Linked DNA regions of Homo sapiens: all the other regions are reported to be linked to region 1. The links are microRNA targets in miRTarBase. Many come from high-throughput screens and were not tested one by one. Region 1 holds a microRNA gene; each other region holds the end of a gene's coding sequence.
The links. The annotated mature microRNA hsa-miR-15a-3p reads CAGGCCAUAUUGUGCUGCCUCA and lies in region 1 at 1,787-1,808, shown strand. An mRNA with a match to its seed (bases 2 to 7 or 8) in the 3' UTR can be bound and repressed. Matches are read on the target gene's strand: a 7mer-m8 pairs with bases 2 to 8, a 7mer-A1 pairs with bases 2 to 7 and ends in A, and an 8mer does both.

Region 1 (3,249 bases):
GTGGCTCTTGCCTGTAATTTTAGGACTTTGGGAGGCCAAGGCAGGAGGATTGCTTGAGGCCAGGAGTTCAAGACATCCTAGGCAACATAGCAAGACCTTGTCTCTACAATAAAATAAAAATGTAAAGAGCTGTGCATGGTGGTGTGTGCACTTGTAGTCCCAGCTACTTGGGAGGCTAAGGTGGACTGATCACTTAAGCCCAGGAGGTCAAGGCTGCAGTGAGCTACGATCATGGCACTGTACCCCATCCTGGGCAACAGAGTACCCTGAGATGAGAAGTAAAACAAATCCTGTAGCTCTTGATCTTCCTATTCCCTACCTATTTCCGGTCCATTTACCAGGTAAGGAAGTATACTCCTAAAGTTTCCACTTACTCAGATGTAGAAATGAATTTCTTTTTCTCTAAAAGATACGGAAACTACTCTCTTAAAAAAAGAAAAAATAAAAATTTAAAAAACGTTGTGCAGAAACTTGAGACAATAAGGAGCAGAGTTATATGTGAAATCCAGGTTGCTTAGATAGGAGATTAGCTACATATATTTTTTATTAATGGGAAAAATACTCAGAAAAATTTCATATGGAATGTGACCCTGTGCTTTGTATAAGTAATTAGATATTAGAATGGAAGAGCAAATTTTAGTGCTTTGGTTGTGTACATCACCTTACTATTCTGTAATAGATGTAACTTTAGCATAGTCATTTTAATGATGAGAACATGGGGCAAAAAAGATTGTCCAGGCTTGAATGGTGGCACCACTAGAGTGGTGGCAATTTTCTGATATCTTTTAGAGAAAAGGAATTTCATTTCTACATCTGAGAAAGTGGAAACTAGGAGTTTCTTCCTTACCTGGTAAATGGGCCAGAAACAGGGAATAGGAAGATTAAGAGCTATGGGATTTGTTTTATTTCTCATCTCAGGGTACCAAATTAACTCATCATCCCAAGGATTCATATTTTAGAATTACTTAAGGATTCATATTTTAGAATTACTGTATCAAATGATATCCAACTCTAAGAGAACTTCTAGTATGAAGATCAATGTTGAAAGTAAAATATTTAGATTATTAATAACAAATTATTTAAGGGAGAATTAGTTTGTTTAGAGCTTTTTTTCTTAACTATATTTGGAATTAAAATGTCTTAATTAGATATTTAATAAAATTAACATTTAGAATTAAAGTATTTTTCTTTAAAAGTATATTTGCATTTTGCTAGCTTAAGTTTATTGAAACTGAGCTCTTGTATGTCATTTCATGTTTTTCCCTTGATGTGAAGTCTTACCTATTTGATGAAGATGTCTTTTGAAAGGTGTACTGCAAGGAACAAAATGTTTGTAAATTCTCCTTTTACCAAGGTAAAGATCAAATTTTATAAATTTACTTGTTTGTTTATACAAGGAAAAATAACTTCATATATTGAATATATTCAAAAGTTTAAGCATTTAGTTGTATTGCCCTGTTAAGTTGGCATAGCAAATAAATGCTTTTCTTTTCCTCATTTTATTCTTTGTGTTTCCTAACCTATAGCACTGTGCTGGGCACAGAATGGACTTCAGTTAAGTTTTTGATGTAGAAATGTTTTATTATTCTACTTAAAATCTCCTTAAAAATAATTATGCATATTACATCAATGTTATAATGTTTAAACATAGATTTTTTTACATGCATTCTTTTTTTCCTGAAAGAAAATATTTTTTATATTCTTTAGGCGCGAATGTGTGTTTAAAAAAAATAAAACCTTGGAGTAAAGTAGCAGCACATAATGGTTTGTGGATTTTGAAAAGGTGCAGGCCATATTGTGCTGCCTCAAAAATACAAGGATCTGATCTTCTGAAGAAAATATATTTCTTTTTATTCATAGCTCTTATGATAGCAATGTCAGCAGTGCCTTAGCAGCACGTAAATATTGGCGTTAAGATTCTAAAATTATCTCCAGTATTAACTGTGCTGCTGAAGTAAGGTTGACCATACTCTACAGTTGTGTTTTAATGTATATTAATGTTACTAATGTGTTTTCAGTTTTATTGATAGTCTTTTCAGTATTATTGATAATCTTGTTATTTTTAGTATGATTCTGTAAAAATGAATTAATACTAATTTTTCAGATGTATCATCTCTTAAAATACTGTAATTGCAATTTAATAATTGTATTGAATGCCATCAAGTTTTTTTAAAAAGCTTATGCAGCATTAGAGGAATTTATTTTAATGCACATTTATATTCAACATAGACATTAATTCAGATTTTTACTTGGGATAAAACAAATTCTAGTTTTCCCTTTGTTTTGAAATTACTTTTAAAATATGTCTTTACAGATAAATATAAAATATATTAAGCATTTTGAACAGAGCTTAGAAGACAATATTTAGTACTGTTTCTGAATATTTCTTTATATCTGAAGGGGAAAAGCCATCAAAATATGTGAATTAAATACCTAAAATTCTGGTTGTCAAAACGTCACACTTAACCATAACTTTAAAGGTAGAAAAACCCTTACAAGTGACCAACCCACTCATTGGATAGCTAAGGAAACACAAAACTCAAATAATTTGCTACACATCACAGATTGGGGTCTTAGTCTTATGTCTTCTAACTTTATAATGGTATACTATTTTTTTCATGTTTTTATTAAAATGTTTTCTTAAATCCTTAGCCAAAGATTTTTGTTTGATAAGTCAAAAATAAGGTCTTGTTTACTTTGTTTACTTTTTTGTATTCAAGATTTAACTCAGAGTAAGACCAAATTATCATTGTAGTTTTATTGATATAAAATGTCAACATAATTTAATTTTTTTTTTTACTTTTTTGTATTTTTAAAATTTTTTATTAAAAATAAAAGTAGACAGCCAGGTGCGGTGGCTCACGCACTTTGGGAAGCCGAGGCAGGCGGATCACCAGGTCAGGAGATCAAGACCATCCTGGCTAACACGGTGAAACCCCATCTCTATTAAAAATACAAAAAAAATAGCCAGGCGTGGTGGCGGGCGCCTGTAGTCCCAGCTACTCGGGAGGCTGAGGCAGGAGAATGGCATGAACCTGGGAGGCGGAGCTTCCAGTGAGCTGAGATCGCACCACTGCACTCCAGCCTGGGTGACAGAGGGAGACTCTGTCTCAACAAAAAAAAAAAAAGAAAAGAAAAGTAGAGCTGGGCACAGTGGCTCAAGCCTGTAATCCCAGCACTTTGGGAGGCCGAGGAGGGTGGATGACGTGAGGTCAGGAGTTCGAGACCAACCTGACCGACATGGTGAAA
Region 2 (3,000 bases), not on the chromosome of region 1:
ACACACACACACACACACACACAAATAAGACTTTATATGAGTGGTCATTGGTTATGATGTTCTTATTCTTTATAAGAGAAAATCTGTGTATACTGTTACAGCTGAATGGCATTTGGTATATGGCATGCCAGTCTTCCACATGTACTGATGTTTAAGAAAGGCTTGGATCCAGTGTGTATTCTGGATGTCGGGGGAAAAAAAGGCTTGGAAACCAGGTTATCCTATTATTTAAAATATTAAAAATTACATTATTTTAGAAACAGAGAACCAAATACAAGCTGATACTACCATAAAATTACCATAAAATAGTTTTGCTCTTTTTTCACTGTTTACACCTTTCCTCCCTATATTAAGTTGTTAAGTACTTGAGAAACGTACTTAACACTGAACTTCCCAATATATTTGGGAAGGTATGATATGAATGTTAAGTATAAAATAATACGGGTAGTTAATGTTAAAAGAACTCAGAGGAAATTTCCCCGCAGGGTAACTACAAAGATGTTTTCTATGCTGCATTTGTCCCGAGATGTTTATGTAACTCATTCCTCTATCTCAATCATTACATACCCCTCATTACAAACACTCCTATGTGCTCTCTGAGCTCATCTGAAGAGAACAGAATTGAGTCGATGATTTGAGTTATGATTTTCTCCATTCTCCTAGGGACTGTACATAATTAGTACCATTCTAGATGACACAGGGACTTAGGGCTTTTTCTCCTGCAAACCTAATTGAGAAAGCCTGTGATAGACACTAGCACACCTCCTTCTCTTTCCCCCTACTCCCAGACTGCTCTGGCCTCAAACCCATCCTATCTATTTCACCAATGGCCAACACTGTCCTGTCTGCACCCAGAGTGAGAAGCTCCCACAGGGAAAAGTTATTTTAAAATATCCAACTTTATATATTTAAAGCCTCATATTTCCTCATAAGCTACTATTTTTCTCTCCCATTCCTACCTTTGTCAAGCTCAGCATATAACAAGTCATCTTTTTGTGACATCAAAGTCTTCAAAGTCTTTCTGGAGATCTAGAATCTACAATTTCTAAATATTTTGCATAACGCATAAAGTGCATATAAATTGAGTTATCCTATATCTGTGAACTGATGAGAATTATTCTGCTCAAACAGGTGGTGAAAACCTTTGCTTGACTCTCCTAAAAGGATAAACAAATACTAAAGAAAGATGGCTTTCAACTACAGTGAGGTTCTTGTGATATGTGCTACTGGAAAAAGTACATTTTTACCAAGCCATAGCAAATAATTTTAAAAGAATATCATTCCACAGTATATGGATCTTTTTCATTATACTGCAATGTAATTTGAAACTAGATTATTTTCCTTGCTAACACTGAGAAGCAACAATTTGTTTAGATTATCTAGTGATGACCTTTTTCCTCTTAAAGGTGACAATGATTCTAAAACAAGAACATCTGAAAACATTTGAAAAAACTATCCCAACACTTCAATACATTGGAACAGTAGTCATATCACACTATACTATAGACCATGGGTTGATAAATTTTTTCCATAAACAGACAGACAGTAAATATCAGGCTTTGTGGGCTATAGTTTCTGTGGCAGCTACTCTGCCACAGAAAAGCAGCCATAGACAAGTAAAAGAATGATCTTGGTTGTGTTTCAACAAACTTTATTTATGAACACTAAATATTCATGTTAATTTTCAAGTATCATAAAAGTCTTTAAAAAAAAACATTTAAAATTATAAACACAATTCCTAGCTCACAGGCCATAAAAAGCAGGCAGCAGGCTGGATTTGATCCACAGGCCATAGTTGGCTGTCTCTTAAACAGGCTTTTATACGTTATGCAAAGTGTTTCAAATTCCAGAGACTTTGGAGACTTTTCGTTTTTTAGATTTCTCATTTTAAAACACACATAATACAAGTTTTCTTTCTGGATCAATATACTCACGAGAGAAAATAATTCAGAAAAAAATAAAATTCCTTACTTAAAAAAAGGGAAAAGCTATAGAACAAATGTTTCGTCTTAAAATATATTTAGGAAATGTAAAATTAAAGATTAAAAATTTTATTCTATGCAACATAAAATAATATGCATAAATCTGGCACATAATTTCTTTGTTTTTACTTTAGAAAAAAGACAGTAAGAAAAAAGTTTATAAATTTCTCAGTCCCTTTTATACAAAGTTGCAACTAAAACCAGCAATCACTTATATGTACAACCATCAACTCTGAATACAATGTGAATTATACCTAGGAACTGTAATTTACCTAGATGAGTTCTGCCTGCTTTATGAAAAACACACACTTATATCACAGAACACCGTGGCTTCTACAATTTGTAACAATTTTGAAAACGAAACTCCTGCCTCCATAATATAAGGAAACAAGAGTACTCTTTCCATAGTCATCATCCTGTATAAAAAAAACTTCATAGTCTGATTTACCTTTGTCAAAGGTAAAATGATTCACATTTGCTTGGATTACTCTGATCCTCAGTAGTTCCTAAACACAAAATAAAGTTTGCATGAACCTTTATCTGGGTTTTCCAAAGCAAGTATTATGCTGGCAGAAGTCCATGAGCTGAATAAAAAGATACTAAATATAAAAGGTTTACCAACTTTATCCTTTCTTAATTTTACGATAGCTTCAGGTATTGAGACCTAACTGGTTTCCTGTGCCTATCCATTGTGAACACATCTCAATCTTCTACTTTTAACACTCCTCAGCACCATATTTTCGTTGTTTCTTTATTGTGCGACGTAGAAGATCCTTTCGTCCAACTTCAATCATTTGTTCTTCCCAAGACTTCATTTCATTATGATAACGAGTTTCGTCCTCTTTAGCATGCTGAATATATAACTGAGAAAAAGCATAACTGTTAAAATGATTTACTTATTTTTTGAGATAAAATGATTATTTAAAATAGCAATTAATTTCTGGAATGCTTCTGTATATACTTTAGAAATTACATTACCATTCTACATGTATAAAGGCAGACTGGAGAAGAAATATTT
Region 3 (3,249 bases), not on the chromosome of region 1:
CCATTAATATGCATTCACATAATGGCGGGGTTAGTGCTCAGGAATGAAGGACATTTATGTTTCTTTATTCCCTAGTCTAGTCTACAACTCTAGAATAGTTTCTCCAAGTGTACTTTTTTCACCACTTGCCCTAAAACCACCAGGGACGCTTGTGAAGTATGCAGACCCTGGGGTACCATACTTGAGAGTAAATCCAGGAATGTGCATTTTCAATAAGCTCCTTGGGTGATTCTTAAGGATATTACAAATCCTGAGAATCTTTGCACCAGAATGATTCTCATGTTAATGCACTTTTCTTGTTTCAAATGTGAACACTGAGGTTACAAATGAGAAGTCTTAAACCAGGTATACCTGGACAGAGAGGGAATTATAAAGAGAAATAAGAAATAACATAATGCTTGGGGACAGAGAAGCAAATGTTCTATTTTATTTCTAGCCAAGCTTTCCAAAAATCATGGTAAAACTGGGTGAGCATCTGACTCAGAAAACAAAAGTAAACTAATGATCAGCAGATTAAATCACAATCATCATCCTACCAAATAATACAACTCTAAACTTAAAAGGCTTATAAGTTTTTATCACATCAATAGTGTGCAACTAAGTTAAGAATATTTAAATGTTTTAAAGAAAGGGGAATGTGGAGGGAGATGGTTCATTAATAGTTTTTCAACTGGCAATGACTATTTAGATTCACTGCTACCTTAGACCACCCAAACAAGACGGCTCAGTGTAAGCATCATAGTATCATTAAACATCATTTCCAGCTCTTCTTTTGCCACCAATCCAGTTAAAAATTGACCTCTACGCATGTAAGTGTAAGAATTTTTTTTTTTTTTTAAGACTGTGTTTTGCTCTTGTTGCCCAGACAGGAGTACAATGGCGCCATCTGAGCTCACCGCAACCTCCGCCTCCCGGGTCCAAGCGATTCTCCTGCCTCAGAGTAGCTGGGATTACATGCATGCGCCACACACCCGACTAATTTTGCATTTTTAGTAGAGATGAGGTTTCTCCACGTTGGTCAGGGTGGTCTCAAACTCTTGACCTCAGGTGATCCGCCCGCCTCAGCCTCCCAAAGTGCTTGGATTACAGGCAAGAGCCACCGCACCCGACCATTGTAAGATCTTTAATTAAAAATCAAAAAGGGCTGGGCACAGTGGCTCATGCCTGTAATCCCAGCACTTTGGGAGGCCGAGGCAGGTGGATCACCTGAGGTCAGGAGTTCGAGACCAGCCTGGCCAACGTGGTGAAACCTCATCTCTACTAAAAATACAAAAATTAGCCAGGCGTGGTGGTGGGTGCCTGTAATCCCAGCTACTAGGTAGGCTGAGGTGGGAGAATTGCTTGAACCCAGGAGGGAGAGGTTGCAGTGAGCCAAGACTGCACCACTGCACTCCAGCCTGGGTGACAGAGTGAAACTCAGTCAAAATAAAAAATAATAATAATAAAAAATAAAAATCAAAAGGTCAGTAACAAAAATGACTTCAAAATACAATCTATTATTAGGACAGATGCAACTCAAATGCTCAGTACTAAATGTTAACATCCAACAAGAGGGCTTGATCTTAAAAAGCAGCAAAGCAGTTATATTCAAAAGGCTTTAAATCATTCTAATAAACTACTGGTTAACAGCATGAGAAGACAAAGCATTGTTTCAGGAAGCTATTGACTTCCCATGAAACAATCTTACCTTACTTACACTTTAGGAGTAAAAAGGAAAACTGCACTTATCTCAGTTTAGGCTATACCCATTAGAGTCTAGAAACACAGTTATTAGTTTTTTTATTTTCATACCACCAGATGTCTAACAGTTATTAGTTTTATTTAAAACTAAGGCTGACTCTGGAAGAGGTTGAATTTTGAACTAATGTTAACAGAAACAATGCACTGTAGTGAAATATCCATGTAAGCAACATAAAGAGGTATGGTAAGGGCCTTCTGGTATTTGTGTGTTAGTTATAAACAAGTGAGGTCAAGGTGAACACACCCTCAATGAATTTTGTACTAAAAAAGTAGCATATAGTCCTCTTGTAGCTGAGAAGGTCAGTTTCACTAGCCTAAGTCCTAAACGTAGGGGAGGACTAGGTCAGTTTACAGAATGACAGGAGAAGAGGATGAGGACAGTGGATATTAAGAATAATTCAACTATGCCTGCTTTTAACCTATCCTTACAAGGAAAAGAAAAAGGAAAGAAAGAAGAGAAACTAAATGCTATGTATCTAATTCCAACCAGCTTGCAAACTCCTACAAAGTCTTATGATGCTGGTTTAAAAGACCATCTTTCCTCCTCTTAGTAAGTCAGCCAATGTATTCGAGCTGATGTTTACCATTATTTACATCAGAGGAAATGGAAGCAGAGTGCTTCCTGAAAATCTGTCAGGCCAGAGACAGAAGGAAAAGCAAAGTCTTAGTTCCTGTTGTTCAGAGTCACCCCTGACAAGTCCTCTGGCCTAAGTTTCCATTTCTTCTTCAACAAAATTAAAATTTCTAACCCTCTATAACTCCAGGTAGTTGTATGCAGTAATGTAAAAGAACAGCTTTCAGTTTTTCAGAGGAAAGGCACTTATGAAACCCATGAAAGCATAGTTATCTCCAACAACAAAGTGTTGTGAGGCCAATATTCTTGATGTGATATTTATAGTAGCCAAGATGGGGTAGATATAATAGACACTGTTTTAACTGGGATTTTCTCCCTGTTGGATGGTTCTAATAACGAATCCATTTTTAAACAGGAGTTTATGTTACATATCCATGTATGCATGCCAAAATACAAATGCATATAGGCTAGTTGTAACCAGATTGAACAAGGTGAAATGGTGAATGACAAATGCTAACTTCCCAAACTGCTGCGGATACAGACTGTCAGATCACAGATGACAACTGGATGGAAGGCTTAACATGGTGTCTATAAATACCTGGTCTGGGGCCCACTCCAGCTGCAGTACACACACACTACATGCATCATGGCTTCTGACGCTCTGTGTGAATTAGGAAACAGACAAGCAAACTTGGGTTAACAATGCAAACCACACAGCATGCAGGGTTATAGTTTCCGTTCTTTTGCCATCTTTAAAATCAGGAACTGGTAGATTCCAAGTTGAGGGATGTTTCTGTAGTTTGGACATCCAAAATATTTGTTGGTTGCTTCCATTCTCTCACAATACACACAGCAATCTGTTAATTTCAACAGATTTTTAATAGATCTTGTAAAGAAATTAATTTTGTTTCTACACATAGAGAATTCACGGGCAA
Region 4 (3,249 bases), not on the chromosome of region 1:
ATGAAAAAAAATCACACAAAAAGGAAACTGACTATTTTTAAGTAAAATATCAATTATAATTGTATATCACTTGCTTTCATGAAAGTATTCCAAATCATTAGGAATGATTAGGTAGTCTTTTTGTGTATCTGTTTCTAGAAATCTGTTTGTATTATATAGTTTTTCTATTAAGAACTTTTTAAGAAATCTCTTCTGGGGGCTTTTGTTTATTCTTAGTAGTTGGAACTAATGTAGTCTGACTAAAATACACATGGGTGTCTGCTCTGTGATGTTTAAACTTATCTGTTTTGTTTGTTTTTCATTTCAGGAAGCAGAAGTGCAAGCAAAGCAGCAAGCATGAACCTTAAGCACTGTGCTTTAAGCATCCTGAAAAATGAGTCTCCATTGCTTTTATAAAATAGCAGAATTAGCTTTGCTTCAAAAGAAATAGGCTTAATGTTGAAATAATAGATTAGTTGGGTTTTCACATGCAAACATTCAAAATGAATACAAAATTAAAATTTGAACATTATGGTGATTATGGTGAGGAGAATGGGATATTAACATAAAATTATATTAATAAGTAGATATCGTAGAAATAGTGTTGTTACCTGCCAAGCCATCCTGTATACACCAATGATTTTACAAAGAAAACACCCTTCCCTCCTTCTGCCATTACTATGGCAACTTAAGTGTATCTGCAGCTCTACATTAAAAAGGAGAAAGAGAAATAACCTGTCTCTCATTCCTAAGTTGCCTCATTAATTTTCATGAACAAGAATATGTACCTTTTTGATGCTATATTACTGCGATTAAAAAGTTCTTGCAGGTAATGTTTATGATATGTTAAACGTTGTAATTTCCTATCGTAATTATAACATTCCCATTCTTTTGTAGATGAAACTTCTACATATTGAACCACAGATTTTCTGAGCTTCTAAATGTAGCCTTTCATTGCACATTTCAGTGATCAGAATAGATATCCTTTTACACGCACAAAAGCAATAGATTCATTCAGTGGACAAGTTCCTTGTTTAACTACACAGCTATGATGGAATGATATATCCAAGTTCCTTGCCTCAGTGAAATATGCATATGTATATCATGAAAGTGGGATGCCAAGTAAGCTTAAAATGGCATTCTCTAGCAAAGAGATTAGACTTTTAAATAACTCTTATAAAACAGGTTGGCGATCATTTCCCAAGATTGGTTTCCCTTGAGTTTTTGCTAAAACAAATCTTAGTAGTTTTGCCCGTTTAAAACAACTCACAATCGTAAATGCTACTATTCCTAAGATATCTTACCTTTTTATTTCAGTTTAGCCATGTATTGTATGAGTGTATTAGTCTAAGCAGTGAGAATCTTTTCTATGCCTCTATTCCAGCAAAAAGTAGAAGTATCAAATAAAAAGGGCAACTTTTAAAATATTAAGCCTGAAGACTTCTAAAAAGACAAGAAACATGGCCTAAATAACCAACATAGATTTACATAGTAAGTTTCACACTACCTTATTACCAAAAGCAAACACCTCTTACTTTAAACTACATTATCATGTATATCTATTGTATGCTGGTCTTTACTTTTTGCCAAAATCAACATATAATGAAGAGATGCCTTTGTTTCATGAGATTCAAACTTGATGCTATGCTTTAAAATAAACTCAGTACTTTTAGAAACATAACTTATGTGTTCTTGGAGTTTATATAATAGTAATTTTAGATGAGTAATATCTTTTTTTAGAGGGTTGGGAATGCAAAAAGAGAAAATAGTAGAAAGAAAAAGCTTTGAATGCAATTCAAGGTTTTCGTTTTCTATGTTTTCTTTTTAGGGCTTTTAATCTCACAATACACATGAGGTCAAATGAACAATTTTATTGGGTTTACAAAAATACGGCATAAAGAACTCTAGAGAAAACAGGGTGCTTTGTAATACACTGGAAACGCAAAAAAAGTTTTTTAGTCAATATTTTCTCCTAAGCTTTATTAAATGTTGCTGATGATACTTGCAATATTTTATGTGGTCATTTTCACTTTTATTTTAATGTCAAATAAGTTAACACTGCCAAAATGGGCATTCTTTAAAAATAGATGTATTTTTTGCCATGTTTATATAACTTAAAATTAACATAGTATATTAAAGTAAAAGGTTGAATTGAGTCTTCCTAAACTGAAATATTTTATTTTGTCAGCTGAGAAATATGTTTTGTAGATACAAAAATGCAAGTGAAATTCTGAATATGAAGGTGAGTTTTATTTAAAAAAATCTCCAAAATATTTGGCCGGAAAATATAATCTTTGCCACTTGTTATATTACATTCAGATTGTTTCTGTTTGTAAATCAGACTTGTTTATTTGTTATGTTCAGTTATTGAGCTGGTTTGTTCTTGGGAATATTTGACTCTCAGGAAGATTTTCATTTTCACCAAACAATGCAAATTGGACGTCGATTGCATTGTTAAATGTCAACATTTCTTTGGGAGTCTGAGTGTAGGGGTAAACAGAATTTTAAAACAGAAGTTGTTAATTACTTGCTTGGGAAAGTTTAAATACAGAAAATGTTGGTGAAGTCAGATTTCATTGCACATATTCCATTCATTCAGCAAAAGGAAAAATGAGGATTCACATGGATTTTATTACCCAGTTGTGGATGCTGAAAAATATTGAAAGGTTGACATTGGTCTAATCTTTTTAATGTAAAATACATATTTCTTTTCTTTTGAAGAATTCCAACAAAACTGATTAAGAAACATGCACATTTGATTAATTTGAACCTTCTAGTCTTCTGCTTCCACCCATCATTCTTCCCCTGTATCTATTATCACCTTCCTTTATTTAGCAAACAAAATTTTGAAATCCTTTGTAAAGAGTACTATAATGTTACCATAATTCCTATTTTCACACAATTGTCTTTTTAACATCTTTACTGAGATATACAATTCACATACTGTAAACTTTGCTCATTTAAAGTGTATAAGGCAGTGACTTTTACTATATTCACAGAATCATGCAACCATCACTAAGATTTAAGTTTAGAATGTTTCATCACCCAACAAATAAACTCTACCCAATAGCAGTCACTCCCCATCCCCCACTCCCTCAGCACTATGCAAACACCAACTTACTTTCTGTCTCTGTGGATTTACCTATTCTAGACATTTTATATAACTAAAGTCATACAATATGTGGTCTTTTGTGGTTTGTGTCTTCTAGTTACCACATTTTTGAGTTTCATCCATGTTGTAGCATGCATTAGTACTTCACATGTTTTATT

Region 2: the mRNA of TFAM is a reported target of hsa-miR-15a-3p. Seed matches in the 3' UTR shown: 7mer-m8 at 1,787-1,793 and 7mer-m8 at 1,748-1,754.
Region 3: the mRNA of DDI2 is a reported target of hsa-miR-15a-3p. The part of its 3' UTR that is shown has no 7-base or 8-base seed match.
Region 4: miRTarBase lists SH3BGRL as a target of hsa-miR-15a-3p. Seed matches in the 3' UTR shown: 8mer at 1,440-1,447.

The regions. Positions count from the first base shown.
Region 1 is chr13:50,047,689-50,050,937 of GRCh38, reverse strand. It overlaps MIR15A (microRNA 15a), which reads left to right and starts at 1,737; the gene lies at 1,737-1,819. It overlaps DLEU2 (deleted in lymphocytic leukemia 2), which reads left to right. Exons shown (of 14, transcript NR_152566.1): 6 at 1,276-1,354. MIR16-1 (microRNA 16-1) reads left to right here and starts at 1,877; the gene lies at 1,877-1,965.
Region 2 is chr10:58,394,773-58,397,772 of GRCh38, reverse strand. It overlaps TFAM (transcription factor A, mitochondrial), which reads right to left. Exons shown (of 7, transcript NM_003201.3): 7 at 1-2,845. The coding sequence ends at 2,699. Among named protein-coding and RNA genes, the nearest start is that of TFAM, 11 kb to the right of the region's middle.
Region 3 is chr1:15,656,343-15,659,591 of GRCh38, reverse strand. DDI2 (DDI proteasomal shuttling factor 2) reads right to left here. Exons shown (of 10, transcript NM_032341.5): 9 at 2,913-2,975. The coding sequence ends at 2,959. Among named protein-coding and RNA genes, the nearest start is that of RSC1A1, 1.7 kb to the left of the region's middle.
Region 4 is chrX:81,296,888-81,300,136 of GRCh38, forward strand. It overlaps SH3BGRL (SH3 domain binding glutamate rich protein like), which reads left to right. Exons shown (of 4, transcript NM_003022.3): 4 at 308-1,660. The coding sequence ends at 340. Among named protein-coding and RNA genes, the nearest start is that of SH3BGRL, 96 kb to the left of the region's middle.